3 linked regions of the Homo sapiens genome follow. The protein of the gene in region 2 interacts with the protein of the main gene of each other region in a biochemical or structural test. Each region holds a gene or a part of one and is shown on either strand. Other genes may lie near its edges.

The links.
Region 1: the proteins of EHD2 (region 2) and AP1M2 form a complex in vitro, tested with the Homo sapiens proteins (one study listed by BioGRID).
Region 3: the proteins of EHD2 (region 2) and EHBP1 form a complex in vitro, tested with the Homo sapiens proteins (one study listed by BioGRID).

The regions. Positions count from the first base shown.
Region 1 is NC_000019.10:10,570,019-10,579,343, forward strand, and holds the end of AP1M2 (AP-1 complex subunit mu-2), read right to left. Parts: intron 8,946-9,325; coding exon 8,874-8,945; intron 7,339-8,873; coding exon 7,180-7,338; intron 5,012-7,179; coding exon 4,886-5,011; intron 4,475-4,885; coding exon 4,399-4,474; intron 3,071-4,398; coding exon 3,048-3,070; 3' UTR 2,653-3,047; downstream 1-2,652. UniProt on the Homo sapiens protein: Subunit of clathrin-associated adaptor protein complex 1 that plays a role in protein sorting in the trans-Golgi network (TGN) and endosomes.
Region 2 is NC_000019.10:47,721,610-47,732,792, reverse strand, and holds part of EHD2 (EH domain-containing protein 2), read right to left. Parts: intron 6,982-11,183; coding exon 6,569-6,981; intron 3,870-6,568; exon of another isoform or gene 3,672-3,869; intron 3,381-3,671; exon of another isoform or gene 3,282-3,380; intron 1-3,281. UniProt on the Homo sapiens protein: ATP- and membrane-binding protein that controls membrane reorganization/tubulation upon ATP hydrolysis. Plays a role in membrane trafficking between the plasma membrane and endosomes. Important for the internalization of GLUT4.
Region 3 is NC_000002.12:62,944,735-62,955,917, reverse strand, and holds part of EHBP1 (EH domain-binding protein 1), read right to left. Parts: intron 7,659-11,183; coding exon 6,756-7,658; intron 402-6,755; coding exon 258-401; intron 1-257. UniProt on the Homo sapiens protein: May play a role in actin reorganization. Links clathrin-mediated endocytosis to the actin cytoskeleton. May act as Rab effector protein and play a role in vesicle trafficking.

The sequences.
Region 1 (9,325 bases), about 37 Mb from region 2:
GTTGCCCAGGCTGGTGTTTTTTGTTTGTTATTTGTGTTTGGCTTTTAAATACAGATTTTTTTTTTTATGTTGGGGTTCTTGCTTTGTTGCCCAGGCTGGTCCCGAATTCCTGGGCTCAACGGATCCTTCTGCCTTGGCCTCCAAAAGTGCTGGGATTACAGGCGTGAGCTCCTGCTCTCCGCCAATAGTTAAATCTTTTTAGAGTGGTAGAGGACTGACCAGATGAGCCATTGAAACGGAAAGGCAAAAAGCCGGGCGCGGTGGCTCACACCTGTAATCCCAGCACTCTGGGAGGCTGAGGTGGGCGGATCACGAGGTCAGGAGTTCAAGACCAGCCTGACCAACATGGTGAAACCCCGTCTCTACCAAAAATATAAAAAATTAGCCGGGCGAGGTGGCGGGCGCCTGTAGTCCCAGCTACTCGGGAGGCTGAGGCAGGAGAATGGCGTGAACCCCAGGGGGCGGAGCCTGCAGTGAGCCGAGATTGCGCCACTGCACTCCAGCCTGGGCGACAGCGAGACTCCGTCTCAAAAAAAAAAAAAAAAAAAAAAAAATTAGCTGCGCCTGGTGGCACGCACCTGTAATCCCAGCTACTCAGGAGGCTGAGACAGGAGAATCGCTTGAACCCAGGAGGCGGAGGTCGCAGGAGCCGAGATCGCGCCATTGTACTCCAGCCTGGGCAACAGAGTGAGACTCTGTCTCAAAAAAAAAAAAAAAAGAAAAGAAAAGAAAAGAAAAAGAAACGCAAAGGCAGGGAGGGCCTCCCTGAAGAGGTGACATTTGATTTGAGACCTAAAGGTGAGGGAGGGAGACTTGTGGTTATATGGGGAAAAGCACACCAGCTGGGAGGCACAGCAGATGCTAAGGCCCAGAGGTGAGAGCGTGCCTGGTGTGGTACAGAGCAGGGGAGAGCAGGTAGGTGGGGTATCAGGATGGCAATTGTGCAAATCAAGCCATGGCTTTTTTATTTATTTATTTATTTTAATTTTTTTTTAATTTTTTTTTTGAGACGGAGTCTCACTCGCCCAGGCCAGAGTGCAGTGGCGCTATCGCGGCTCACTGCAAGCCCCGCCTCCCGGGTTCACGCCATTCTCCTGCCTCAGCCTCCCGAGTAGCTGGGACTACAGGCGCCCGCCACCGTGCCCGGCCTTTTTTTTTTTTTTTTTTTTTTTTTGAGACAGAGTCTTGCTCTGTCGCCCACGCCCGACCAGGCCATGGCTTTAATAAGATAGGAATGCCGAGCGAAGTGGCTCACACCTGTAATTCCAACATTTTGGGAAGCTGAGGCGGGTGGATCACCTGAGGTGGGGAGTTCGAGACCAGACTAGCCAACATGGTGAAATCCCATCTCTATTAAAAAATACAGGCCGGGCGCAGTGGCTCACGCCTGTAATCCCAGCATTTTGGGAGGCCGTGGCGGGCGGATCACGAGGTCAGGAGATTGAGACCATCCTGGCTAATACGGTGAAACACCGTCTCTACTAAAAATACAAAAAATTAGCCAGGCGTGGTGGCGGGCGCCTGTAGTCCCAGCTACTTGGGAGGCTGAGGCAGGAGAATGGTATGAACCCGGGAGGCGGAGCTTGCAGTGAGCCGAGATCACGCCACTGCACTCCAGCCTGGGCGACAGAGCAAGACTCTTGTCTCAAAAAAAAAAAAAAATTAAGCCAGGCGCGGTGGCTCACGCCGGTAATCCTAGCACTTTGGGAGGCCAAGGCGGGCGGATAATGAGGTCAGGAGTTTGAGACCAGCCTGACCAACATGGTGAAACCCCGTCTCTACTAAAAATAACAATAATTAGTGGGGCATGGTGGCGCACGCCTGTAATCCCAGCTACTCAGCAGGCTGAGGCAGGAGAATCGCTTGAACCTGGGAGGTGGAGGTTGCAGTGAGCCGAAATCGCGCCACTGCACTCCAGCCTGGGCGACAGAGCGAGACTCCGTCTCAAAAAAACAAAAACAAAAACAAAAATTAAGCCAGGCGCAGTGGCTCATGCCTGTAATCCCAGCACTTTGGGAAGCCGAGGCGGGCAGATCATGAGGTCAGGAGTTCGAGACCAGCCTGGCCAACATGGTGAAACCGGTCTCTACTAAAAATACAAAAATTAGCTAGGTGTGGTGATGGGCGCCTGTAATCCCAGCTACTCGGGAGGCTGAGGCAGAAGAATCGCTTGAACCCGGGAGGCGGAGGCTGCAGTGAGCCGAGATCGCACCACTGCACTACTCCAGCCTTGGCGACAGACTGAGACTCCGTCTCAAACAAAACAAACAAACAAACAGACAAAAAAAGCCAGGCGTGATGGTGGGCGACTACGACTATAATCCCAGCTACTCGGGAGGCTGAGGCAGGAGAATTGCCTGAACCTGGGAGGCGGAGGTTGCAGTGAGCCGAGATCGCGACACTGCACTCCAGCCTGGGCTACAGTGAGACTGTCTCAAAAAAAAAAAAAGAAAAAAGAAAAAAGGAAAAAAGAAGCGATGCTAACACGCGCCCTCTAGCGGCTACTGGGGGAACAGACCGTGGAGGTGGGAAGCAAAGGCAACAGCAGAGGACCAGGGCCATGACCCGGGACTGAGGAATGGACTGACACGTGTTACCCACTCCCATTGCAGCACTTCAGTAATGTCCCCAAACAAGCACATAGGCAGCGGCTAGATTCATCTTTTTAATGACATCCTAAAATTCAGAGGAGGGGCCAGCGGGACCTCTGGGCTCAGCGGCTGTGAAGGAGGGACCCGCAACACCCGCTAAGGCAGGTAATTGCAAGAAGGCACTCGCGAGGAGGACTTCAAGCCCCTCTTCTATTTCTTCATATAAAATCAGGGGGATGGGGAAAGCTCCAAGGGCGAGGGAAGCAGAGAGAGTTTCTCTCCCAGCCTATGGAATAAGGAAGAGGTGAGGAAGGGGCGGGTGCTGGGAGCAAGAAACTGCCAAGTCCAGGACCTGCCCTCACACAGACACACACAGCCCGCACCTGCCCTCCCTCTAAAATCTGCATCCGGGGCTGTAAGGAAGCCCCGTGTTCAAGCCCCCATCTCTTCTCCCTTCTAGCTGGTACGAAGTTGGTAATCTGCAGAGAAAGAATGAGGAGGGGCCATCTCAGAAATGGGGAGAGGGGGGCCGGGCACGGTGACTCACGCTTATAATCCCAGCACTTTGGGAGGTCGAGGCAGGTGGATCACTTGAGGTCAGGGGTTCGAGACCAGCCTGGCCAACATGGTGAAACCCCATGTCTATTAAAAATACAAAAATTAGCTGGGTATGATGGTGCACACCTGTAATCCCAGCTACTAGGGAGGCTGAGGCAGAAGAATTGCTTGAACCCAGGAGGTGGAGGTTGCAGTGAGCTGAGATTGCGCCACTGCACTCCAGCCTGGGCGACAGAGTGAGATTCCATCTCAAAAAAGAAAAGAAATGGGGAGGGGTGAAGGAAGAGGGACAGCCTCCCACAGCCCCTCAATTCATCCCCTATCCCAGCACTCATGATCAACAAGGCTAAGAATGGGGCTAAACACAGGTACTGTAACCATAGAAACAAGGCAGTTTCCAGGCAGCAGATGGAGGTGCTATATGTTCAGCCCCTTCTCCAAACTCGCGACCACCCTAGAACTGACGCTGACAACTGTCCCTGCTTTTTTTTCCTTTTTTTTTTTTTTTTTTTTTGAGCCAGGGTCTCACTCTTGCCCAGGATGGAGTGCAGTGGTGCAATCACAGCTCACTACAGCCTCGACCTCCTGGGCTCAGGCGATCCTCCCACCTCAGCCTCCTGAGTTGCTGGGACTACAGGTGTGCACATCACACCTGGCTAATTTTTATATTTTTTGTAGTGAAGGGGTTTTGCTGTGTTGCCAAGGCTGGTCTGGAACTCCTGAGCTCAAGCGGTCCTCCCACCTCAGCCTCCCAAAGTGCTGGAATTACAGATGTGAGCCACCACACCCAGCCAACTGCCCCCATTTTAAAGACGTGCAAACCAAGGCCCAGGGTGCCATGACAAGAAGGGGCAGTTTGCTTTCTTTTTCATTTTTTGAGACAGGGTTTCTGTCGACCAGGCAGGAGTGCAGTGGCACGATCTCAGCTCACTGCAACCTCCACCTCCCGGGTTCAAGCAATTCTGCCTCAGCTTCCTGAGTAGCTTGGATTATAGGCATACACCACCACACCCGGCTAATTTTTGTATTTTTAGTAGAAACAGGGTTTCACCATGTTGGCCAGGTTGGTCTCGAACTCCCGGCCTCAAGAGATCCACCCGCCTTGGCCTCCCAAAGTGCTAGGATTACACACCTGAACCATCACACCTGACCCTTGTTGGTTTTCTGAGCCAGAATGTGGTGAAAGCCTCGAGTCCCTACCCACTGCCTTTCCCTCACCCCATTGTCCCCAGGAGCTGGGCTGCCTTACCGCCACTCTGGGTGATGTAGCGAACCCAGGGCAGGGCCTGGTAACCACTTTTCTCAATGATCTTCATGTATCGGACCTGGAAGGGAATGAAAAGAGGTGGTCCAGGATTGCAGGAGGGAGGAGGCCAGGGCCAGGGAGAAAGAGACGGCTTAGGCCAAGCGGCTATGTGGCACAGGCTGGGATCGATGAGGGGATATCACATGGTCTTAGGGGGATGAGGTGGCACAGGCAACGGAATGGTGAATGGCTTTGGAGGTGGAGAAGGGACAGAAGTGAACAAGCCGGTGGGGAACAAGGTGGCACAGGCCGGGGGAGAGGGAGCACAGGCTGTGGGCAGATAAAGGTAACATTGCTCTGGGAAAGACCAGGCAGCCTTCAGAGGAGTGTTGACACAGGCCAGGGGACTGAGGTGACTCGAGCCAAGGGACAGGAGAGAGGGGAACCCACCGAAGTCAAGGGGAGGATCCTCCCTGCCTGCTTCTCTCACCTGGATCCCAGAGACGGTGAAGTAGGGGATCTCAAACTTGACCCCGATGGGGGGCCGGCCCTCCACCTCTTCCTTTTCCACACTGGGGAGGCCAAAGTGGGCTCGCATCAAGTACTCCTTGCCCCCCTGAGGGAACATGGGGGCATCAGGTACACGAGGGTCCGCCTACCCTCCCGAGACCTTCCTTTCAGCAACCCCTGGAGTCAGATCTGCTCACAGCCCATTTCACAGACAGGAAAATAAAGGCTCCTTAGCCTGGGCAACATATTGAGATACCATGTCTACAAAAAGTTTAAAAATTAGCTGGGTGCGGTGGAACATGCCTGCAGTTTCAGCTACTTGGGAGGCTGAGGCAGGAAGATCCCTTGAGTCTGGGAGTTTGAGGCTGCAGTGAGCCATGATCTCACCACTGCACCCCAACCTGGGTGACAGAGACTCACCAGGGAAGATTCTGACTGCAAAACCCAATCAGGGTTTTTTTCTTTTTTTAACTACCATGTCCTGTTTTACAGGCACTGATGATCCACCTCTCCCAAGATCATGGGGACAAACCAAAACCTCTAGTAGCCAAGGGATGTGGGTCACCTCATCCTGCCCATTTCACAGACAGGCAAACTGAGCCTCCTTAAGTGGAAATGGGTTTCCCAAACCCACCCAGCTCAGCAAAGCAATAGTGAGGAAGGTGAACCCAGGGCTGGTTTCCTCAAGACATTGGCAGGGGGATATTTAAATCCACACACTTCCCGTCATGGAAGTTTACACGTCTGTGAAATAGACTGGCCTGGTTTCAAGCTTGATCACTTGCATACATACGTACCTCTCTGATTTACTTGTATTTCTTTTTTCTTTTTTTTTCTTTTTTTTTCTTTTTTTTTTTTTTTGAGATGGAGTCTTACTCTGTCGCCCAGGCTGGAGTGTAGTGGTGCGGTCTTGGCTCACTGCAAGCTCCGCCTCCCAGGTTCACGCCATTCTCCTGCCTCAGCCTCCCGGTAGCTGGGACTACAGGCGCCCGCCACCACGCCCAGCTAATTTTTTTTTTTTTTGTATTTTTAGTAGAGACGGGGTTTCACAGTGTTAGCCAGGATGGTCTCGATCTCCTGACCTCGTAATCTGCCCGCCTCAGCCTCCCAAAGTGCTGGGAATTACAGGCGTGAGCCACTGCGCCTGGCCTTGTATTTCTTTTTTCTAAGTTTTTTTTTTTTTCTTGAGACAGAGTTTCACTCTGTCACCCAGGCTGGAGTGCGGTGGCGTGATCTCAACTCACTGCAACCTCCGCCTCCCGGGTTCAAGTGATTCTCCTGCCTCAGCCTCCTGAGTAGCTGGTACTACAGGCGCACACCCCCATGCCCGGCTAATTTTTTTTTTTTTTTTTTTTTTGAAATGGAGTCTCGCTCTGTCACCCAGGCTGGAGTGCAGTGGCGTGATCTCTGCTCACTGCAAGCTCCACCTCCCGAGTTCAGGCCATTCTCCTGCCTCAGCCTCCCAAATAGCTGGGACTACAGGCGCCTGCAACCACGCCCGGCTAATTTTTTGTATTTTTAGTAGAGATGGGGTTTCACCATGTTAGCCAGGATGGTCTCGATCTCCTGACCTCGTGATCCGCCCACCTCGGCCTCCCAAAGTGCTGGGATTACAGGCGTGAGCCACCGTGCCCTGCCCTAATTTTTGTATTTTTAGTAGAGACGGGTTTTCACCATGTTGGCCAGGCTGGTCTTGAACTTCTGACCTCAGGTGATCTGCCCGCTTCAGCCTCCCAAAGTGCTGGGATTACAGGTATGAGCCACCATGTCTGGCCTTTTAATCTTTTTTTTTTTTTTTTGAGACGGAGTCTCGTTCTGTTGCCCAGGCTGGAGTGTGCAGTGGCACAATCTCAGCTCACTGCAACCTCTGCCTCCCGGGTTCAAGCAATTCTCCTGCCTCAGTGTCCCGAGTGGCTGGGATTACAGGCATGCGCCACCACACCCAGCTAATTTTTGTACTTTTACTAGAGACGGATGTTAGCCGTCTCTATGTTAGCCAGGCTGGGATTTCAGGCGTGAGCCACTGCGCCCAGCTCCTCTTAATATTTTTATAGAGGCAGGGTCTCACTGTGTTCCCCAGGCTGGTCTCCAGCTCCTGGGTTCAAGCGATCTGCCCGTGTCAGCCTCTCAAAGTACTGGCATTCCAGTCATGAGCCATCACACCTGACTGGGTCTCTGATTTGTTCTCTGCCTTGTTCTCATGGCTCCTGGGCAGCCCCCACACTACTCCAGTCCCCTCCACCCCCAGATCCCCCGCCAGTCCCTGGTACTTACCGGGAAAGACTTAATACTCCAAATCACGACGTTTCTCTCCGGCACATACTTGGCGCTGCCCACACTGGTCTTGAATCTGGGGGAGTCGGCATCGCTGGGTACAGGCACAGATATCTCCACACCGTTGGCCACTGACTGTTTCTTAAACTGCCCCTTGGCCTGTCAGGGGAGCGAGCATGGGGCACGAAGAATTCGCTTGCTCATCCTTCAAATATTTACCAAGCCCTTTTTTTTTTTTTTTTTTTTTTTTTTTTGAGACGGAGTCTCACTCTGTCGCCCAGGCTGGAGTGCAGTGGCGCGATCTCGGCTGGCTGTAAGCTCCGCCTCCCAGGTTCACGCCATTCTCCTACCTCAGCCTCCTGAGCAGCTGGGACTACAGGCACCCGCCAGCACGCCCAGCTAATTTTTTTTGTATTCTTAGTAGAGACGGGGTTTCAGCATGTTAGCCAGGATGTTCTCGATCTCCTGACCTCGTGATCCGCCCACCCCGGCCTCTCAAAGTGCTGGGATTACAGGCGTGAGCCACCATGCTTGGCCTTTTTTTTTTTTTTTTTTTTTAGACGGAGTCTCTCTCTGTCACCCAGGCTGGAGTGCAGTGGCACAATCTCCGCTCACGGCAACCTCCGCCTCCTGGGTTCAAGCAATTCTCCTGCCTCAGCCTCCCAAGTAGGTGGGATTACAGGCATGTGCCACCACGCCCTGCTAATTTTGTATTTTTAGTAGAGACAGCGTTTCTCCATGTTGGTCAGGCTGGTCTGGAACGCCTGACCTCAGGTGATCCTACTGCCTCCGCCTCCCAACATGCTGGGATTACAGGTATGAACCACTGCACCCAGCCTGAAGGGGTCATTTTGAATCAGGCAAAGGTGTATGGTGCTGTCCACATGGAAGGCACCAAGAACAGGGCTTCTCGAGCCTCATGGGTGTGGGCCTGAGTTCTAACAGTTGTTGGCTGTGTATCTGCAGGCAAATGCCTTAACTTCTGTGTGCCTCAGTTTCCTCATCTGTAAAATGGACAGGATAAGGGTCCCCACCTTAGGATTGTGGAGGCCTGGGCTGAGAGGGCATATGAAAGGCTTGTTGAAAAAAGCCGGGGGTGGTGGGCCACACCTGTAATCCCAGCACTTGGGGAGATGGAGGCAGGCGTGGCGGCAGGAGCCTGTAATCCCAGCTGCTCGGGAGGCTGAGGTAGGAGAATGGCATGAACCCAGGAGGCAGAGGTTGCGGTGAGCTGAGATCACACCACTGCACTCCAGCCCGAGTGACAGAGGGAGACTCTTTCTCAAAAAACAAACGAACAAACAAACAAAAAAACCCTTCAGTCCATCACAGGAGAGTTATTATTTTATTTGATAACAGATTTTTTTTTTCTTTTTTCTTTTTGGAGATGGGGTCTAGCTCTGTCATCCAGGCTAGAGTCCTTGTCTCACTACAACCTCCTCCTCCTGGACTCAAGCAATCCTCCCACCTCAGCCTCCCAACTAACTGGCACTACAGGCACTCACCACTTTACCAGGCTAATTTTTGTATTTTTTGTAGAAACAGGGTTTCGCCCTGTTGCCCAGGCTGGTCTCAAAGTCCTGGGCTTAAGTGATCTAACCACCCCGGCCTCCCAAAGTGCTGGGATTACAGGTGTGAGCCACCGCACCCACCCGAGATCATGCATTGTTAATAAGCATTCCCCCAAGGCCCACCTTGACCATGATCTCCACGCGGCTGTGGGAGAACTTCTCAATGACAGACTCAATCCAGATCAGTGGCTTGACCTGTGGGAAGAAGAAGGGGAGAGTTCTTGGAGACTCCATGTTGACTCTCTTCTTTTTTTTTTTTTTTTTTTCTTTCTTTGAGACAGAGTCTCGCTTCTTCGCCCAGGCTGAAGTGCCATGGCGTGATCTTGGCTCACTGCAACCTGCACCTCCTGGACTAAAGCAATTCTCGGCCGGGAGCGGTGGCTCACGCCTGTAATCCCAGCACTTTGGGAGGCCAAGGTGGGCGGATCACGAGGTCAGGAGATCGAGACCATCCTGGCTAACACGGCGAAACCCCGTCTCTACTAAAAATGCAAAAAATTAGCTGGACACGGTGGCATGCGCCTATAGTCCCAGCTACTCGGGACGCTGAGGCAGGAGAATGGCGTGAACCTGGG
Region 2 (11,183 bases):
ATAAATTATCGAAAAATAAACAAGGAGAGCAGAATAATGAATATTGGTATGTCTATATTTTATAGGAAGCTCACAAATTAAATATTGCTCATGCCTATAATCCCAGCACTTTGGGAAGCCAAGGGGGGAGGATCACTTGAGGCCAGAAGTTCGAGACCAGCCTGGGCAACATAGCAAGACTTGGTCTCTAAAAAAAAATTTTAAAACTAGTTGGGTGTACTGGCGCGCGCCTATAGTCCCAGTGAATTGCCGGGGCTGAGGAGGGAGGATCACTTGAGCCCAGAGGTTTGAGACTGAAGTGAGCTATGATGTCGCCACTGCACTCCAGTCTGGGCGACACAGCGAGCCTTTGTCTCTAAAAAAATGAATAAATAGGCCAGGCGCGGTGGCTCACGCCTGTAATCCCAGCACTTTGGGAGGCTGAAGCGGGTCGATCACCTGAGGTCAGGAGTTAGAGACCAGCCTGGACAACATGGTGAAATGCTATCTCTACTAAAAATACAAAAATTAGCCGGGCTGATGGTGCCCACCTATAATCCAAGCTACATGGGAAGCTGAGGCAGGAGAATCACTTGAACCTGGGAGGTGGAGGTTGCAGTGAGCTGAGACCGTGCCATTGCACCAGCCTGGGCGACAGAGTGAGACTCAGTCTCAAAACAAAATAATAATAAATAAATGCTTTTACAAAATGCAGTATATTGGCCGGGCGTGATTACAGTATATCACGCCTGTAATCCCAGCACTTTGGGAGGCAGAGGCAGGCGGATCATGAGGTCAGGAGATCGAGACCATCCTGGCTAACACAGTGAAACCCCGCCTCTACTAAAAATACAAAAAATTAGCCAGGCGTGGTGGCAGGCACCTGTAGTCCCAGCTACTCGGGAGGCTGAGGCAGGAGAATGGCGTGAACCCGGGAGGCGGAGCTTGCAGTGAGCCGAGATCATGCCACTGCACTCCAGCCTAGGCGACAGAGCGAGACTCCGTCTCAAAAAAAAAAAAAAAAAAAATGCAGTATATCTGGAAAGACACACAAGAAACTACTTATGGGGGTTGCCTCTAGAAAAGAGGCCCTGGGAGCTGGTGGGGTGAGGTGTGGGAGAATCATGTCTGATAAAGTATGAATGCCTTTCCATGAGATGGTCTTAAATGTTCAATAAAAAAGACTAGTTAAAAAATTCTTTTAGGCCAGGCACAGTGGCTCATGCCTGTAATCCCAACACTTCGGGAGGCCGAGGCCAGCGGATCACCTGAGGTCAGGAGTTCGAGACCAGCCTGGCCAACATGGTGAGAACCCATCTCTACTAAAAATACAAAAATTAGCCAGGTGTGGTGGCACCTGCCTGGAGTCCCAGCTACTCGGAAAGCTGAGGCACAAGAATCACTTTAACCTGGGAGGCAGAGGTTGCAGTGAGCCGAGATCATGCCACTGCTCTCCAGCCTGGGTGATAGAGAGAGACTCCATCTAAAAAAAAAAAAATTATATATATATGTATATATATATATATATATATATTTTTTTTTTTTTAAAGAATCACAAATTTAGACTGCTGAGAACGTTGGTGGTCCCTGACTGGTTCTAAATCTTCATCTCTTCCACCTTCCACCACCACCCTGTCTCCAGCCCCGTTAGGCTCTCAGTTCAAACACATCAAGTGCATGGCTGCCCCAGGGCCTTTGCACATGCTGTTCTCACTGCATGGACTGCTCTTCCACCCGATCGCCACTCGGCTCACCCCTTCCTCTTACCCCTTCCTCTCCTTCAGAGCGCTCTAAAATAGTCCCTCGCCAGCCCCTCTTTCCTCCGCTTCATTTTTCTTCATAACCATTGATTTGTTTAATGTTTGCTTCCCCACTAAAAAGTAATTCTATGAGAAAAGGAATTTATCTGTGTTCCCTGCTGTATCCCCAGAGCCTAGAGGAGTACCACATGCGATCGGCAACTGCTGAATGAATGTCACTGGGCCACTGCAGAGAATGTGGTCTGAAGGTTCAGGGCATCTTGGCGTCTATAGAATCAGACCCTCCCAAGATCTTGGCCTTACGTATCACAGCATCATAAAATCTCCCCTTCTAACAGCTATCACTTCAGCCAAAGGACTTAGAGCCAGAGGATTCGTCCACACCCTCCATCGTACAGATGGGAAACTGAGGCACTGGGAGGAGGGTGAATGCCTCCTCCCAGAGAGTCCAGGAAGGCCTGGTATCTTTGGAGGAGAGCATGAGGGGAGGTTAACAGTATGGCTATTGTTGGTGACGACCAAGTGTGGCGGACTCATATGTGAGGAGCAGGGGTGGGGGTGCGACACGGGGCAAAGGAGGGGCAGTGAGCCTTGGTCACAGCGGACCCTAAATCCCATGCTCCTGTGTCCTGAACGGCACTGGGGAGCCATGGATGAACCTGCAGGAAGAGGGGGAGGGAGTGCCTAATGGTCTGAAGGACCAATCAGGGCAGGGGTGTGGCCGGGCTGGGGGCGGGGCCTGTGAGAGCGGGCCAATGGAGCCAGGGGGCAGGGCCGAAGGGCGGCTCCGTAGGGACCAAAGGAGGGTAGGCGGGAGGGCGCTGATGGCTTTTCCAGAGAGGAAGCAGGGGAAGGTGCCAGGAAGAGATAAGGTGAGAGGGCGGGCTGGGCCGGGGCTGGGTCCCTGACTCCGGGGTTTGTCTGGGTTTCCGGAGCCGCCCCCAGCCCGGCGGGGGCACCAGGTGTCTGGCCCGGACCCACCCCTCTGTCCCTGGGCCTTGTGCTCCAGCTCCCGCCAAGGGACCCGCGGGAACGAACCTGGGGGAGTCTAAGCAAGACCAGGAGGAAGACAGAGAGAGGGCGGCGGCGGAGCGGGGGAGAGATGGAGAGACAGGAGGAGGCAGAGCGAGAAAGAAAAGGAAAGGGAGTTAGAATAAAAGAAAAAGTAAAAATGGAGAAGAAAGAGACTGAGAGAGAGGTAGAAAGGAGACTGACATAGAGACAGAAAAAGAGAGAGAGAGACACTGCAGAGCCGCCTGGGCAGAGGAGCGCAAGGTGAATTCCGAAGGTTCCAGGAGTGGCAGCCTGGTCCACAGTGGGCCGCTCCCTCCGAAGGAGGATTCCTGGGGTGGGGGTGGGGGCTCTGACTCACCCACTCTCGCTGCTCCTTAAACCAACACCTCAGGCTCCTCCACCCCCTAGAACCTTCTTGGCCTCCCTGCCTGCCCAGCTTCCTGCCCCGCCTCCACCCTGGCAGCCTCCCCCTGAGAAAGTTCCATCTGACATCCAAAATCGCTCTGAAACCCGCGCTCTCCTTTCTCCTCTCCCTCCCCAAGGCCTGTCCTGATCCAGGAACCTCCAAGCCTTTTGCCTGGTCTCCAGGCTCCTAGACTCTCCTGCCTTGAATCCACCCTCCAAAAGGTAGCTTGAGTCTAATTATCTCCTTTCCCTGCTCCGAACTTTTTCATGGCTCCCCAGTGCCCTAGGGACAAAGCACAGATTCCCGGACACAGCCCACACCACCTCTGATCTCAGCCACATCCTCAGCCTCTAATTGAGTTAGCACACTGTCTACACTGGGTTCAACACTGACATTTCCCCTCAGATGCCCTCTCCTCCAAAGAAGCCCTCTCTGCCTGCCCCAGCTACCCCGCCCCAGCTCTGACCACACTGGGTCATCGGTGCCTGGGGATGGATCTGTCTCCTCTCCAGGAGCCCCAGTGAGGACTGAGCCCTGGAACTGCCTTCATTATTTAGGACTGGGAGCCCCAGCAGGACAGGACTGGAACCATCGTGGTCACTGTTGTGTCTCCTGCACCACCCAACACCAGGCCAGGCATAGAGGAGATTTTGTTCAATGCAACTGTTTGTTCAATGTCATTCATTCAATAAATATTTACAGAGCACCAATTCTGTTCCGGGCACTGGGGATAAATCAGTGAAGGAATTCAAAGAGCCCTGATTGGCTGGGTGTGGTGGCTTACGCCTGTAATCCCAGCACTTTGGGAGGCCAAGGCGGGCGGATCACCTGAGGTCGGGAGTTCGAGACCAGCCTGACCAATATGGTGAAACCCCGTCTCCACTAAAAATACAAAAAATTAGCTGGGTGTGGTGGCACACGCCTGTAACCCCAGCTACTCAGGAGGCTGAGGCAGGAGAATCGCTTGAACCCGGGAGGTGGAGGTTGCAGTGAGCTGATATCGCACCACTGCACTCCAGCCTGGGCAACAGAGGGAGACCCTGTCTCAAAAAAAAAAAAAAAGAAAGAAAGAAAAAGAAAGAGAAAGAGAAAGAAAGAGAGAAAGAGAAACAGAGAAAGAGAGAAAGGAGAGGAGAGGAGAAGAAAGGAAAGGAAAGGACAACAGGGTTAGGGTAAAGAAGGACGCATATGGGGGAAGTTATATTCATTCAAAGGAGGGCATGGACAGCCTTCCTGAGAAGGGAGCATTTGAGCAGAGTCTTGAAAGGGGTGAGGAGGGAGTGAGCCTTGTGGATGGCCAGGTGGGAGGGGGAAGAAGGCAGAAGAGGTTTCCAGGAAGAGGGAGCAGCAAGTGCACAGGACTGAGGCCACCAGCGTGAAGTGCAGGGGACGCTGGGAAGGGAATGGGAGATGAGGACAGAGGAAAGGAGTGAGAGAAGGGGACAATCTGTGGCCACAATCAAACAAGAGTCATGGGAGACGGGTGCTGTGAAGCGCCTAAGATGTAATAAATTCATCTTTTTTTTTTTTTTTATTTTGAGACAGAGTCTCGTTCTGTCGCCTAGGCTGGAGTGCAGTGGTACAATCTCAGCTCACTGCAACCTCTGCCTCCCGGGTTCAAGTGATTCTCATGCCTCAGCCTCCCAAGTAGCTGGGATTACAGGTGCCCGCCACCACACCTGGCTAATTTTTGTATTTTTAGTAGAGACGCAGTTTCACCATCTTGACCAGGCTGGTCTCGAACTCCTGACCTCAAGTGATCTGCTCCCCCCTCGGCCTCCCAAAGTGTTGGGATTACAGGCGTGAGCCACCGCACCCAGCCTTCATTGTTATTTTATGTCTGTTTACTTATTCTGTCTCCCTCCATCAAAAGATAAGCCCCGGGGCTGGTCCAATGGTAGTGGGTTATCAGAACTTTTTTTTTTTTTTTTAATAGAAATGGTGTCTCACTATGTTGCCCAAGCTGGTCTTCAATGCCTGGGCTCAAGCAATCCTCCAAAAGTGTTGGGATTACAGGCGTGAGCCACCGCACCTGGCCTTGGTTATCAGAACTTATTAGTGTCAGTAAAGTTGGCATGCAACTCCCCACCCCCACTGCTAAATTTGACTAGCTTATAAATAAATTAATTAATTAAATTTAAAAAAAGATGAGCCCCAGGAGGGCTGGAACCTTGTCTGTTCCCTCCATCCCCAGCCCCAGCACCATGTGTACAGAAAGCATTCCAGAAATACTTGTGGGCCTGGCGCGGTGGCTCACGCCTATAATCCCAGCACTTTGGGAGGCCAAGGAGAGCGGATCACCTGAGGTTGAGAGTTCAAGACCAGCCTGACCAACTAAAAATACTCTACTAAAAATACACAATTAGCCGGGCATGGTGGTGAATGCCTGTAATCCCAGCTACTCGGGAGGCTGAGGCAGGAGAATCGCTTGAATTCAGGAGGCGGAGGTTGTGGTGAGCCGAGATCACGCCATTGCACTCCAGCCTGGGCAATAAGAGCAAAACTCCGTCTCAAAAAAAGAAAAGAAGAAGAAAAAGAAATATTTGTGGAATAAACCAATGAACTTGGAAACCTTTGAACCACAATCTTATAAATTATCAAAAAATAAAGAGGGTAGAATAATGAGTATTTGTCTGTCTATATTTTATAGGAAGTTCAAAAATTCAACATACTCATGCCTGCAATCCCAGCACTTTGGGAGGCCAAAAGGGGAGGATCACTTGAGGGCAGGAGTTCAAGACCAGCCTGGGCAACACAGTAAGACCTCGACTCTACAAAAAATAAAAAATTAGCTGGGCGTGGTGACACGTGCCTGTGGTCTCAGCTACTTGGGGCAGGCTAAGGAGGAAGGATCACTTGAGCCCAGGAGTTCAAGGCTGTGGTGAGCTGTGATTGCATCATTGCATTCCAGCCAGGGCAAGAGAGCGAGACTCCATCTCTTAAAAAAGAAGGAAGAAGAGGGAACGAAAGAGGATGTAAGGAAGGAGGAAGGGAGGAGGGAGGAAGGGAGAGAGGAACAGAGGAAGGAAGGAAGGAAGGAGGAAGGGGAGGAAGAAAGAGAAGAAGGAGGAGGAGGAGGGAGAAGAAGAGGAGGAGGAGGAAAGAGAGAAGAAAGAAGAAAAAGAGGAAGAAGAAGAAGAGAAGGAGGAGGAGGAGGAAGAGGAAGAAGAAATAGAAATACCAGGACAGAGAAGCCAGGGTGACACGGAGTTGACACAGAAATCCAAAGGCAGAGGAATGAGTCTCTCCATACAGTTCTTCCTCCCGGCTTCACTCTGTGCCAGAATGACCCAACTTCAAGAGAACTAACTAACCTGGGCCCTGATAAGTCAGGGACTCACAGCACTGGTAGGAGAGGACCGAGGAAACCTCCTCCAAGAATGCGCGCCCAGCCCTCAGGACTACTCACTCGCACCAGCCGGGCCCTCTTCACCAGGTCGTTGAGCTTGCGCAAGGCTGCGTGCCGGGGCAGGCCCTGGATGTCGCGGAAGAGGTCCTGCTCCTCCAGCTCGAAGAGGCGCCGGTTGTCGGGCACGAGGAGGGGCTGGGACCAGAAGGAGCCGATGTAGACGCGCAGCACCTCGGGCGTGCCCACCACCTTGCCCAGCGCCCACATGAGCGCGCCGTAGACGCGCATCAGCTGCTGCGTCTCCACCATGTCGGCCTTGTTGAGCACCACGCGGATCTTGTCCTCATGGCCCCGCAACGCGCCGATGGCCTCTGAGAACTCGTCCGAGATCTCCAGCTTGTGCGCATCAAAGAGCAGGATGATGAGGTCCACGCGCTCCGCGAACCAGCGCAGCACGGCCGGGAAGTCGTAGCCTGGAGTGGGAGTGGAGAGACAGGGGCGCAAGGGGCAGAAATCAGACCCCCACCCTCCAGCCATTCTCAGTAGTATCCCATTCTCTTGCATATTGGACTGTAAAGATGTTCACGTTGTTGGCTGTCCAAATCCTGTCTGGGCAAAATAGCCAAGGCCCTCAGTGGGCACTACTGCTCTGGCTCTCCAGTGCCCAGAATTTCCCCCCTCGCTCTGGCCCCAGCCCCTCAAGCCATCTGGCTACAGGGGGCAATCATCCCCCTTTTCCTTTGCTCGAGCACAATGGCGGGATCACGCCTCCCTGCAACCTCTGCTTCCCGGAGCTCAGGTGATCCTCCCACCTCAGCCTCCCTAGTAGCTGGGACTGCAGGCGCGCATCACCACACCTGGCTAATTTTTTTTTTTTTTTTTTTTTTTGAGTAGAGATGGGATCTCACTATGTTACCCGGGCTGCCGGGCTAGTCTCAAACTCCTGAGCTCAACTGATCCTCCTGCCTCAGCCTCCAAAATGTTGGGATTACAGGCGTGGGCCACCGCGCCCAGCCTCACGGCCTCCATTTTTTCATTTGCTCATTCATTAAGCAGTTATTACAGGTGTGCGTCGGTATGTACATATAGGTTGTTAAAAATACTGACATGTTTGCTAAGAGATCCCCCTGTGCTTCTATGGAACCCCCAAGCCTGCCACATGCCTCTATCACCCCAGCTCCTCCCCAGGACCTGTTGTATCTCCCCACGATCCAGCAACTAGAGTTCATGCTGGATAGCTGTGCTCTTGCCATAGCAGATGATAATTTTTTTTTTTTTTTTTTTTTTTTTTTTTTTTTTTTTTGAGACAGAGTCTCACTCTGTCGCCCAGGCTGGAGTGCAGTGGCATGAATGTGGCTCACTGCAACCTCCACCTCCACCTCCCAGGTTCAAGCAATTCTCCTGCCTCAGCCTCCCGAGTAGCTGGGATTACAGGCATGCACCACCACCCTGGCTAATTTCTGTATTTTTAGTAGAGACGGGGTTTCACCATGTTGGCCAGGCTGAGAAGTTAAATATTTTGCATTTATTTAGCAATACTTACTGAGAGTCTCATGTGTGCCAAGCCCTGTCCTGGGAGCCTGGGATACCGCAGAGAACACACAGACAAGATTCTTGCTCTTATGAAGCACCCATCCCAGCCATGGGTTCCCATGCTCATTCATTCATTCCTTTCACCATTCATTTCCTCATTCACTCCTTCATCCACTCATTCTCACCTTTGCTTCTTCACTCATTTATTCACCAACAAGCAATGCTGAGGAGAGCAGAGAGAAGCGATTGAGACCCCCTGACTTAGCTGTCTGGAAGACCTGGAGTTGAGTCCCTCCTCTGCCCCCATCCACTGTGTGACCTTAGGCAAGTAGCTTAACCTCTCTGAACTTGTGTTTTCTTTTCTGTAAAATGCAAATCATAGGACTGTTGTGAAGCCAGGTGTGATGGCTCAAACCTGTAATCCCAGCACTTTGGGAGGCTGAAGTGGGCAGATCAATTGAGGCCAGGAGTTCAAGACCAGCCTAGCCCTAAAAATACAAAAAAATTAGCCCGGTGTTGGTGGCTCATGCCTATGGTCCCACATATTCAGAAGGCTGAGGCACGAGAATCGCTTGAGCCTGGGAGGCAGAGGTTGCAGTGAGCCGAGATAGCATCACTGCACTCCAGTCTGGGCGACAGAGTGAGACTCTGTCTCAAAAAAAAAAAAAGACTGTTGTGAAGATTAAAAGAATATAAATGAGCTAATATATATAAAGAGCTTAAAATAATGCCTGGCATTGAACTGTACATTTAAAAATGATGGAAGTGGCCAGACAGAGTGGCTCACACCTGTAATCCCAGCACTTTGGGAGGTAGAGGCAGGAGGATCGCTTGAGCCTGGGAGTTTGAGACCAGCCTGGGCAAGATGACAAGACCCTGTCTCTACAGAAAAAAATAAAATAAAAAATTATCCACACATGTTGGCATGCATCTGTAGTCTCAGCTACTCAGGAGGAGGAAGCAAGAGGATCACTTGAGCCCAGCAGTTGGAGGCTGCAGTGAGCCATGATTGCGTCATTGCACTCCAGCCTGCAGACAGAGCAAGACCTTGTCTCTTTAAAAAAAAAAATGGTTGAGCTTTTTTTTTTTTTTTTTTTTCAGACGGAGTCTCGCTGTCGCCCAGGTTGGAGTGCAGTGGCGCGATCTCAGGTCACTGCAACCTCTGCCTCTCGAGTTCAAGCAATTCTCCTGCCTCAGCCTCCCGAGTAGCTGGGATTACAGGTGCCACCACACCCAGCTAATTTCTGTATTTTTAGTAGAGATGGGTTTTCACCATGTTGGCCAGGATGGTCTCCATCTCTTGACCTCATTATCCGCCCACCTCAGCCTCCCAAAGTGCTGAGATTACAGGCATGAGCCACTGAGCCCGGCCATAATGGTTGAGTTTTTATGGCGTGTACGTTAATCCTCAATGAAACTGTTTTTTTAAAAACAGTGCTGGATGTACGGTAAGCACTCAGCAAGTCATGGTGATGTCACCCACTGGGAAGCACCCTCTGTGGTCCCTGCTGTGTGTGTGGAGGCTGAGGCAGTTTCAGCTTTGTCCTTACATCTCTCAGCCCACTGGGGACACAGACCTGGCCCCTGAGTGGTCAGCCCAGGGTGGGCAGGGGGATCCAGGGAGCTGTGGGAGCCCAGGGCCAGTGCCTGACCCAACCCCCAGCCTGGGGGTCAAGGAGGACTTCCAGGAGGAGGGAAGGCAGAGTGGGAACCCGGAGGACGAAGAGTTAACTGGCAGAACAAGGAGCTAGCCCTGATTTACTGACTTCATGCCCTCCAGCTAGAGCTCACTCAGTGACTCTTCACAACAACCCCAGGAGGTGGGCACTGTTCTGACCCCATTTTCCAGATGAGGAAACTGAGGCACAGAGAAGTTAGGGGACTAGCTAGGCGTGGTGGCTCACGCCTGCAATCCCAGCACTTTGGGAGGCTGAGGCGGGTGGATCACCTGAGGTCAGGAGTTCGAGACCAGCCTGACCAACATAGTGAAACCCCGTCTCCACTAAAAATACAAAAAAATTAGCTGGGTGTGGTGGTGGGCACCTGTAATCCCAGCTATTCGGGAGGCTGAGGCAGGAGAATCACTTGAACCCAGGAGGCGGAGGTTGCAGTGAGCCAAGGTCCTGCCACTGCACTCCAGCCTGGGCAACAAGAGCGAAACTCCGTCTCAAAAAAAAAAAAAGAGAGAGAAGTTAGGGGACTTACTCAAGACACACAGGTAAGAGGCGACAGAAGAGGAGTCCCATGGGCCCCTATGCTCCTCCGGGGAGCTGGTGCTTGCACCCATCCTGCCTGAGAGGAAGCAGCCTCCTTGCGGGCAACGCAGGGACCGGGATGGGGTTGGGGGCCGTTGTTTTGGGGGAGGAAGGGCCAAGTCACTGGAGGGACAGCAACTGGAGCCCCCCCTCCCTCCCGGTGTCTCCACAAACACACATACTGGCCCAGATTCGGAAAGTGTGTCTCATGGGGCGGGGAGGGAAGAAGGGAGAGAGGTTGAGTCAGTGTGGGATGGGAGACGTGGCAAAAAGGAACCTTGGGCCCACAACGGCACTCACCCAGCGAAAACAGGCATTGTTGGCACTTCCATAGCGCCTACTGTGTGCACACACAAGTGTGCACCTTCTAAGTGCTTTGTATGTTTTAACTAATTTAACCTTTAGGACAACTATGAGGCCGCTAGTATTATTATTCCCAGTGTGTGTGTGTGTGTGTGTGTGTGTGTGTGTGTGTGTGTGTGTGTGTTTTGTTTTTCTGTTTGTTTATTTTTGAGACCAAGTCTCACTCTATCGCCCAGGCTGGAGTGCAGTGTCATGAGCTCGGCTCACTGCAACCTCCACCTCCTGGGTTCAAGCAATTCTTCTGCCTCAGCCTCCCGAGTAGGTGGGATTACAGGCAAGCACCACCACACCCAGCTAATTTTTGTATTTTTAGTATAGACAGGGTTTCACCATGTTGCCCAGGCTGGTCTCGAACTCCTGACCTCAGGTAATCTGCCCACCTTGGCCTCTCAAACTGCTGGGATTACAGGCGTGAACCACTGCGCCCAGCCCATTATTCCCATTTTGCAGGTAAGAAAACTGAGGCAAAGAGAGGTTAAGTGGCTTGCCTAAGGTCCCACAGTTTAAAAGCAGCAGAAAATAGG
Region 3 (11,183 bases), on a different chromosome or scaffold from region 2:
AAACAGATTATTCATGTATATGTGGAAATTATATTCCCAGATCTTACTTTTCCTCATCACTAACACTGCTCTGTAGGAATAATGATCAAATGGTCCTACAAGTATGAATTTATCTTTATCAGTTCAGTAAGTGCACCAAGTATTCACAATGTACAGTCCGTAGAAAAATAACATAGCAGAAATACAAGCAAATTACTTCCCTCCTCCCCATGATTACAATGAACAACTTATGGTCTTTTTTAACCAATGCTCCTCACATCACTTAGCTGCCTGTTGCAGAATGGGGTGGCTGTGTTGGTATTGTGCTTATTCCCCGCCTTTAAGGCTGCATCTCTTCTTGCTTGCTCAAGCAGAACTCTTGCTCTTTCCTTAAGTTCTTCTTGTCTAGATAACAATCGATGCTTAAAAGCAAAGATACAGAATTAGAAGCCAAAAAAAAAACGGGTAATCTACATTTGTAAACTAATGAAAGGTTAGACAATCTGCTGAAATAATAGAGATTATGAATAAGATTGTAGCTTCATGAGATTACCTATAGAGAATATTAATGTTGACTAGAAACTGTGGAACAAATATATAAATCTTGACATGAGGGAAATACATCTTTACTGTCTAAAACTGGATTAAATTTAATTATAATTTTATTAGAACATATTCTCATTAGGTATGAGGCTAATATATATTCTATATATTCTCAGTATTTGCTCATAAACACAGTATAATCTGACAAAGACATTTTTTAAAGTTCAGAGTTTTATTTTTAGTCTTATAGAATTGATAACAACATGTCTTCCAAATTTGAATGTTGATAAATATTAAATATCTGTGGCGATAATCCTTTAAATCCTTGAGAATGTTTATAGAAAATTCAAAGCTATTATATTTCATTAAAAAAAAGTAAAACTAGTCTTCCCCATTGCTCACTATCCTTATAACAAAACAATTGAAAATATTAGAATTGAAAAAGTATTCTCCTGGATTAATCTGTAATTTTACAATGTAATTTTGGAGAACAACAGATACTGTCCATCAACAGAGATCAGTTCTTAAACCAAAAGCACAAATATTCATACTCCTTATAGTCCAAATTCCTTTTTTTTCTACTAAGTAACCAACTTCTGGCTTTAGATGTCTATTACTATTATCAGATACTTAATTTCTTTTACTTCCCTTTCATTGCATAGTTTTGGTTCAATCATAAGTATCACTGTCAAGGAAAAGAAAATAAGTGTAGCTATTACTTTATTTCATATTATGTGAAACCATCTTTTTTAAGATTAGTTCAGCATTTTTGGGCTTCTTTGTGGTCTTTATATTTTACTACAACTATTTTTTAAAGCCTTTTTTTCTATAAACTTAAAGAAGAAAAGATTTTTCTTAAAGTGTACAATTCAGTGGTTTTTAGTATTTCATAAGGTTATGAACTATCACCACTACCTAATTCCAGGACATTTTCATCACCCAAAGATTTTTAAGAGGATTAAACAAAAATTCTTAACTTAATAGATACAAATAAAATGTATAAGTGATAACGATAAGTCTAAGTTCATGTTGAATAGGACACAATAGAATTTAGTTACAATATCAACAGTGTCTCAAAAACAGACAAAATTAATTAAATGAACACTGAATTTTCAGTCAAGACATCAGGCTGTTAATCCCTCTCCCACTAATAATAAGCAATGTAACATTGAGCAGGTCAGTTAAAAACTTACTGCATTCCATTACATGATGTGGAGTCAGACAGACCTGGGTTCAAATATCAGTTCCACCACTTAATTATGGGCAAGTTAATTTCTCTAAGCCTCAGTTTCCTCATTTATAAAATAAGGATAGAAATAGACCAACTCTCAGAAGGACAGGGCAAAGATTAAATAATAGCATAATGTACTGAGCACTGGCACATGGCAAGCACTGAATAAACATTAACTACTTGTTTTAATCCCTTGATTTCCTAATCTTTGAAATGAGGGATCATCTTTAAGATCTCACTAGCTCTAAATTCTGTGATTTTATAGTCTTTTGGTAATTCCAACCAGCTACATGGACAGTGAAAAGATGTTTTGGTCTTAAGACCAAAATCAAATCACCAAAAGATTATAAAATCACCAATTGTGTTTAACAGCACATAAACACAGTTTTTTTTTAATTTTCCTGGCTAGAAATGCAATTCACTACAGAGATTTCAGAAAATAAATACAAGTTAAAAAGAAAAAAATAAACATTAGTAGTAGTCCTGGTACCCAGAGATAATAACTGTAGAATCATGCTTTTTTTTTCACTTATTCTATTTTGAGCATTTTCTCATGGTCTTAAATGTTTTTTAAACATAATTTTTTTATTATTTTATTTTATTATTTTACTTTTTTGAGACAGGGTCTCACTCTGTCACCGAGGCTGGAGTCCAATGGCATGATCACAGCTCACTGCAGCCTTGACCTCTCAGGCCCAAGCGATCCTCTTACCTCAGCCTCCCAAAGTACTGGGATTACAGGTGAGCCACCATGCCCAGCCTAAAACTTGATTTTTAATTGGCTACCTAACATTATATTGTATAGATGCATCATACGTTAGTTAACTTGTCTTATTTTGCTGAACATTTAGGTTGCACACAATTTTTTACTATCATAAATAATGCTTTTATGAATATCTTTAGAAGTAAATTTTTATTATACCTTTTTTTTTTTTTTTTTTTTTTTTGAGACGGACTTTCGCTCTTGTTGCCCAGGCCGGAGTACAATGGCGCCAGCTCGGCTCACCGCAACCTCCGCCTCCCGGGTTCAAGCAATTCTCCTGCCTCAGCCTCCCGAGTAGCTGGGATTACAGGCATGTGCCACCACCCTGGCTAATTTCATATTTTTAGTAGAGACAGGGTTTCTCCATGTTGGTCAGGCTGGTCTCAAACTCCCGACCTCAGGTGATCCACCCGCCTTGGCCTCCCAAAGTGCTGGGATTACAGGAGTGAGCCATGGTACCCGGCCATATTATACAATTCTAATTATTTCCTTAGGAAAAATTCCTGAAAGTAGGATGTAATGAGATAAAGATTTTTAAGGAATTTGATTCACATTGTTAAATTGCCCTTCAGTAATGTTGACCACATTATATTTGGGCTACGATTATTTTTTAATGCTATTATGGTAAATAAAGATGTTATAAGCATCAAGTGGAGAAGCACAGACTTTGAAGACAAGGTTGCTTTTGAATTCAAACTTTAACATTTATCATGTAATCTTAAGTAACTCTGCAAACCTCAGATTTCCCACATATAATATAGAATTTGACTACTTACCTTATGAGTTGTAAAGTCTAAGAGATAGGTGTAAGATATATAACTGTCATCACATGTATTAGGCACCCAAATGGACAACATTATGACTTTGTTAAGTATATAAAGCCATATTAAAGTTACTAAATTTCCTCTAATCCAATGGTCTTAATTGTAAGAGTTACTATTATTTTATGAACTACTAAGAAAGAACAAACGCTGTCAATTAAACTCTAATACACTATCTATTATAAATAATATATTGATTTCGGAGAAGTTAAAATGTAAAAAGATGTGTATCTGAGAATTGAAATACTTTGTACAAAAGAGAAACAGATTTTTAATTGTCCAAAATTCAGCTGCTATATACAATTTTAAAAGCCTACCAAATGTCAGCACCTATATTACAGTGTTTATTGTTAGACATTACTTTTGCCAATCCAGTGTCAATAAAAACCTTTAAACTTACCCCAAGAAAAATTCTGAATAAGCCAATGGCCAAAGAGAAAACATACATGGAGCTATGAATAGACATTGCTTCTATCATCCAGTACACTTTAATCATCTGAATAGAATCACAGAATGATAGTTTCACAGCTAAAGGGGTTCTTAAAGATTGCTTCATTTAACATACATGGAAAATAAGATCGAGAGAGGCTAAATGGCTAGTTAACATGTCACACTACTAATTTATTGGGAGAGTCAAAACGAGATTCCAGGCTTACTGATTCCCAGTCCAGGGTATTTTAAAATTTTAAACATCAATCAATTCCTAGTTTTAACTAAACATATTTGCCTTAAAAATCTGGTTTTCAAGAAAAATCTGGCCAGGCGCGGTGGCTCACACCTGTAATCCCAGTACTTTGGGAGACTGAGGCAGGAGGATCACCTGAGGTCAGGAGTTCGAGACCAGCCTGGCCAATGTGGTGAAACCCCATCTCTACTAAAAATACAAAAATTAACTGGGCATGGTGGTACACACCTGTAGTCTCAGCTACTCGGGAGGCTGAGGCAGGAGAATCACTTGAACCCGGGAGGAGAAGGTTGCAGTGAGGTGAGATCACGCCACTGCACTCTAGCCTGGGTGACAGGGCAAGACTCCACCCCCCCCCCCCAAAAAAAAAAAAAAGAAAAATTTGTATTGAATATGACAATTTAGGGTCATCAAGTTCTTGAAATTGTCAATCACTAGATGTTTATTGATTATCTACTATGTGTGGACATATGCTGTCCTGAAAGCTTTCAGAGAGATTTAGCTACTTAGGACTTTTGATTTGAGGTTTATGATTAGGAGAACAGGGGCTTGCTTTGGCAGCTATTATATTTCTTTAATTCTAAGATATAAATTCTTTCTTGACACCTCTGAAAACTTATAAATGGCAGAATCTTACACTCTCTGTCATCCAGGTGGCAGTTAAGACATGGTTGTCTACCTATACGTATATTGTTTGATATTTCAGTTGGCATGATGGCAATTCCTTGATGTTTCAGTCAACACCACTTGAGGACTATTTGAGAAAGAAACATAACTCCAGATTACTGTCTAAAAATCTTCTGTTGAAACCTTCTGGTAAAGCCAAGAAAGTGCCATTATCAATCAGTATACTGACTTGGAAGAAAATCCCAGAGACAGTTGTGGAGAAATGCTATAAATTCAGAGGTTCGGGCCGGGCGCGGTGGCTCACACCTGTAATCTCAGCACTTTGGGAGGCCAAGGCGGGTGGATCACCTGAGGTCAGGAGTTTGAGACCAGCCTGACCAACATGGAGAAACACCGTCTCTACTAAAAATACAAAATTAGCCGGGTGTGGTGGCACATGCCCGTGATCCCAGCTTCTCGGGAGGCTGAGGCAGAAGAATTGCTTGAACCTGGGAGGCACAGGTTGTGGTAAGCCAAGATGGCACCATTGCACTCCAGCCTGGGCAACAAGAGTGAAACTCTGTTTCAAAAAAAAAGAAAAAACAACTCAGAGATTTCCCAATTTTTTGGTCTCGAAATCCCCATATATGCTTAAAAATTATTGAGGATCCCAAAAAACTCTTGCTTATACAGATTGTATCTACTGATATTTGTCATTTTTGATATTAAAACTGATATATTTTTAAAATATTTTTTTCATTTAGAAGTAGCCACAATGAACTCATTAGATGTTAACACATTTTAATAGAAAATAATTACTTTAAAAACAAAAATTGAGAAGGGTGGCAGTATTTTACATATTTTGTAAATCTCAATATAAAAGAAAGCAGCTGAATTCCTATATCTACTTTTGTATTCAATCTGTTGAGATATCACAAATCATGTAACTTCCAGAAAATGCCATCATACTCTTGTGAGAGAATGAGAGTGATAAAGGCAAACAATGCCCTAGTATTATTATGAAAATAGCTTTAACTTTGGGGGCTCTCTGAAAGGGACTTGGAGAACTTCAGAGGCCCCCAAATCTGGCTTTGAGAACCATTTACTGTAACAATGCTTTTGATGGCACAGAGGATAACTGTGCAGAAAAAAAAAAAAGGAATACCAACAACTCTAAATCAAAAAGTGATTCAGAAGAGCTGGATTCTAAATGTGAAAAACTTTTAGGAATACCTTAATCAATTTATTTTGCCTAAAATTTCCTCCTTATATATACACGAGTGTTATCTGATCAAATAATCTATGCCTAAATAAGTCTAAAAGAGCTCTTTCAATAGCTATAAAAATTCTGAGTGATAGGAAAACCAGGTATCATAACTTTATTGACAATGTTGTTCTTTTTTGTTGTGGTACATAAAATATTAGTATATCTTATAACTGATGGTACCAGAGATACAAGTAAAAACAGTAAATTATTAATATCATCAGTAAGAGAAAGGTTAAAACCGTACAGTATTCCCTTCATGAGGAGAAATTTGGATGCTGCAGGGATTTTTAACCACAAGTAATGATGGGACTAAATAAACCAACTAAAATACCTAAGGAAAATGTTTTAAATGGGAAATATTTAATTTGGCATTATACATTTTTAGAATGATGTTCTTATTAAATGGAATATTGAAACATCTTTGATTTATTTTATAGTAGAATATTGTTTTTATAAGTAATATTTTTATTTGAAAAGTTGACATTCTTTATCCTTCAATTTTTTTCTCATAGCCTTATTACACAATATCCTTCAGTGTTGAAATTGGGATTTTTAGGCTTAAAATATTATATCATAAACCTTAAATATACAGCAGGTATATTTCAGGTTTTTCTTTTCTTGAGACAGGGACTCGCTATGTTACCCAGGCTGGTTTCAAACTCCTAGGCCAAAGCAATCCTCTTTCCTCAGCCTCCCAAATAGTGGGGACTTAGGCACACATTACTACATGCCTCAGGAGTTTTTATAATAGAAATTACACTTCACCTTTAATCATTTGTAGCATCTATGAATGCAAAAAGAAACAAAAACAGAGAATAACTAATTACTAAATATAGTATTCAGCATTCTAACTCACTTACCTGGACTATTTTTGATGAATGATCTGCATGATTTAAAGTGGTTCTATCAGCATCTGGATCAGACTCCGTCTGCCTCAGGGAAGCATGTTTTTTCTTAGCAAGGTCTAGATCTCTACTATATGAGTATCCAAGTTTAGAAGTAGGAGATAAACTTGTTTTTTTGATAGGAGATTCTGGATCTGATCTGCATTCTAAGGATCTGGAATTCTCTAATTTTTCTTTCTCCAAGTTACTACCGATGTCTAGAGTTTGAAGCTTTTGTTCATCTGTCTCCTCACAAATAAAGGGTGGAGACATATCCTTCTTCTTATCACTAACATATAAGTCACTCAATTCTAAAGTCTCAGCTTTCAATAGTCTCTTTTTGCCTAACAAAACCTGTGCTTGGGTTGAATCTGTATTGGAACATATTCCAGGGTCATCAGATCCTGAAGTCCTTCCAGAGCTCTGCTGAGACTTCTGGGGTTCTGTGTCACTTTTAGTCCTGCGACAGTAAGGGGAGGCTGTGCTTGGACTAAGGTGATCATCAGGAGTTTGATGCTCACTTTCTGACTCTCCAACCCCGCTATCATTTACAAATACAGAGTCATCCTGTGATAAGAAGTCTACTGCTCCGCTGATAGGCTGTTGTAGTTCAGGCTCCCGCTTCAGATCACTAAGCTCTGCATAGAATTTTTCTTGATCAACAGAACTGTTTGTATCTGTTTCATAGTTTCCAACTTTATATGTGCTTTTACTGCTGTTTTCCTCTATCTGAACGACATTTAGTTCTTGGCCACTGAAATGTGCCCTTATTTGATAGAGATAAGTCATAACAGTCAGTTTATCAGGAATTGCTAATAATACCATATCAGAAGGTTCCAATAATCGGGAAATTCCTATGCTGGCAAATCCATCGTATGCCTTCAAAGGAAGGAAAAACAAAAGATATATTGAACAGTTCATATAATTCACACATTTTAAAAAGAGCACATTTTTAATTTTTGTTGTTTGGGTACATGTTATCGACATTATGTCACATGAAAAGAACAAATTTCCAAAAGTCAGACATGTGTAAAAGTGGGGGGAGAGGCAAGAGAAAAAAGTGTAATAAATAAGAATTAAAATATTTTTTCCAATAAATGAAACAAGCAAAAATGAGAGTTAAATTTTTTAAAACTCTGAGAATGGATTTTTAAGATAAGGAACTAAAGTATAAAGAAACATTAGACTAATCCATATTGAGCTTTATCATTTCTATCAACCTCTCTTTTCCACAGTCATGTAATTGCAGTGATTTGTGAAGAAAAGCACAGCTAGATAAGTCAAAAGAACTACTAGATTACCTGATATAAAATACAAATAAATGCAATTTAAGCCTAGAAACAGAAACATTTTTAAATGCTCAATTAAGACTGATTTTCATAATGAAAAGAGTGACTTCATTTAATTCATTCATTTTGGAAAGAATGAAATGTTTTGAGTACTACAACCTAGTTGAGAATGTGAGGCTGCATTGTATTATTTTTGTTAGCCTTTAAATGACTGTGGCACATCAGGTTTTTCTAGTTTTGAATAATCTAAGCTGTTTCTCAATTTACAATTAATTATTACTATCCTGAACTAACCCTTGAAAACAGCATTGTGTTGCTAGGAAGCATTAAAAGTATGGCTAAAGGTTTAGATATACTCTCAGAGAAAGTAAGAACCGTCTAGATATATTCTTGCTCTGGGATGTAAAATGTTTACTCTTTTTAGCAACCTAGATTAAGGATTATAATTCAAAGTTTTTCTTAAAAGACATGTTAGGAAATTATGTAACAATTGAGAATGAATCAGTCTTCTGTACTTACTTGTTAAAGTACATTGCTATGTTTGAATTTAATCTTTGTCTCATATTCTTGTAGTTTAACAAACATTATGGAACAAGTAAGAAAGAAAATGAAAAATAAATTGTGATATTAAAACCTCTTCAATTTTCACAGCACTAGGCTTCATAATATAGGTACCTCAAAATATTTACTAGAGAGAATGACTCAGTTGGTGTGCATGTATAGGCTTGGTTTGTTATTTTACATGTTTTAGGAAAATTGAAGTCATTTTCCTTTTCATGTGTCTTGACAACTTGACTGACAGGCATCAATTGCAGGCCATCAGGGAAAGCACCACAGGCAGTATTCTAAACATTCCCAAATTATCTAAAAACACTGACATATTGGTTAAGATCAGATGTCACAGGAAAATGCCTTTTTTTATTCAGCACTTTTTACAGACCCAGGAAAATGATTAGCTTCCTTGTGGGGAAACTCCTGCTGGTGTTTTGCTTCATGTAGCAATTCATTTTATGTACACTAATTACACTAAAAAAACATTTAAAAACAAACTAGGTTTCTTTTAAGCAAGGTTAAGGCTTTATAAAGGACTTTTCCCATAGGTTAACCTCTTCTGCCATGGTCAACTAACTACCTACTGTTTTTCACCTGTTTGTGTGAGGTGAAAAAAGAGGTCTTTCTAAGAAAATTATCTTATTCATTTGTAGATGTTATTAAATTGGTAAGGAGGAGTTACTGCCAGTTATGTTATGCATCTGTATGAAATTTAAGACACAGGCATTGTTTTCCTATGGTGCTTTAAGTCCATTCAAGGGCACATGGGTTATTGGGAAGAAATGTGTGAAGCTAGAAGTAATTTGCAGGTAGCAACTCAATGTAGCTATCAGGTAAGAAGTAGCAAATGATGAAAGGAAAGACTATGTAAAAACAATTATTTATTGAATAATACAATGAATAGAATCATCAAAGATAAAGCCTTTCAAAAGCCATGATTGTCTGTACTGGAAGATTTAATTGAAAAAAAATTTTAATGGGACAGTCTTCTGTATGGAGTAATATGTAAATCCAAAGTATGCTTACCATTATTAAGTTAATGAAAAGCTAATGTAAAGAAGTGTGACTTAAGCCTTACTGAGATTCCCTATATTCTTTACACATTTATAATGAGGTAAAATCAACAATATTTCTTTTTCAAAATTTTGAACAGTAAGTTGAAACATCCACTTTAAAAAATGGTTTATTTTATAATGCTCATGTCTGTATTTAAATTGGCTTACCACTTTGTTCAAATGTAAGAAAATGGAGGTAAAGCACTGCCACACCCAAAGATATAATTTAATTGTAATTAATGAAAAAGAAGCATTTCACTTTAATAGACACAGGCTCTCCAAAATTATACAAGAATTAATTCATGAGAACAGTTTACTTTGTAACATGCCCATCCAAAGGGTAATTTCTGTAAGAAAACTATACTGATTTTTAAAGATTATCTTTTTTTTGGTGGCATATTTCAATAGAGACTGCCAGGTTTTTATTGCTCTACGGCCAGCATTATGCATTTGTGAAAAAACAACCATTTTTTTGTTTGTTTGTTTGTTTTTGGACACAGGGTCTTGCTCTGTCACCCAGGCTGGAAAGCAGTGGCATGATGCTAGCTCACTGCAGCCTCGGGCTCCTAGGCTCCAGCGATTCTCCCACCTCATCCTCCCAAGTAGCTGGGACTACAGGTGCATGCCACCATGCTGAGCTAACATTTTCATTTTTTGTAGAGATGGGGTCTTGCTACATTCCCCAGGCTGAAGAAACAAAATCTTTTTGATAGCAATACACATTTTTGGTTTTAGAGAGCAATACAAGTGAAAAATTGTTTTGATTTAAAGACTTGTTAATTGAACTTCTATCAAGGTCCCAAGACTTTGTATCACTAGTAATTTTAATTATTTAATTTAAAGTATGTTAAAAACTTTAGACTAGAGGTTATTAACCACTTTGTCTCATGAACCCTTTTGGCAATGGGTCCCTTCTCAGAATAATGTTTTACATGGATAAAATACATAGAATTACAAAAGACATCAATTATACTGAAAAATACACCTATGAAAGTATTACTTAAAATGAATTTGGGAAGTAGTAATATATGTGCTTTTTATGACTGCACTAATTATTTTGAAGAAGTTATAAGTGTAAAAGGTATTTGCAGATATCTGCAGCAACAACTATAGCATGACATGAAAATATCGAAAATATCTGTGATTTCTAAAGGTGACAAAGTCTCAGGCATGGTTAACACTATGGTGGTTTATTGCCTAAATTCATAATTGAAGGAAATGCTAAATTTCAGATGAGGAATTATGAAAGTAAAATGTATTTTTTCCCTCAACCATGTTCAAGGACACCCTGATTTCTACCCACAGTTCACAGGTTAAGAACTCCTGTTCTAAGACAATAATAAATTTCATTAATTTTTCAGTTGAAGAATTCAATTCAGTAGAAAAAAGCATTCAGTGCCTACTGTGTGCTGAGTTAGGTGCTTCCCTCTTTGCACACAGAATGCACATACTGTGTGCTGGGGTAAACAGATAAGTCAGCCTGTGGCCACAGTTAGCTGGCCCAGGGC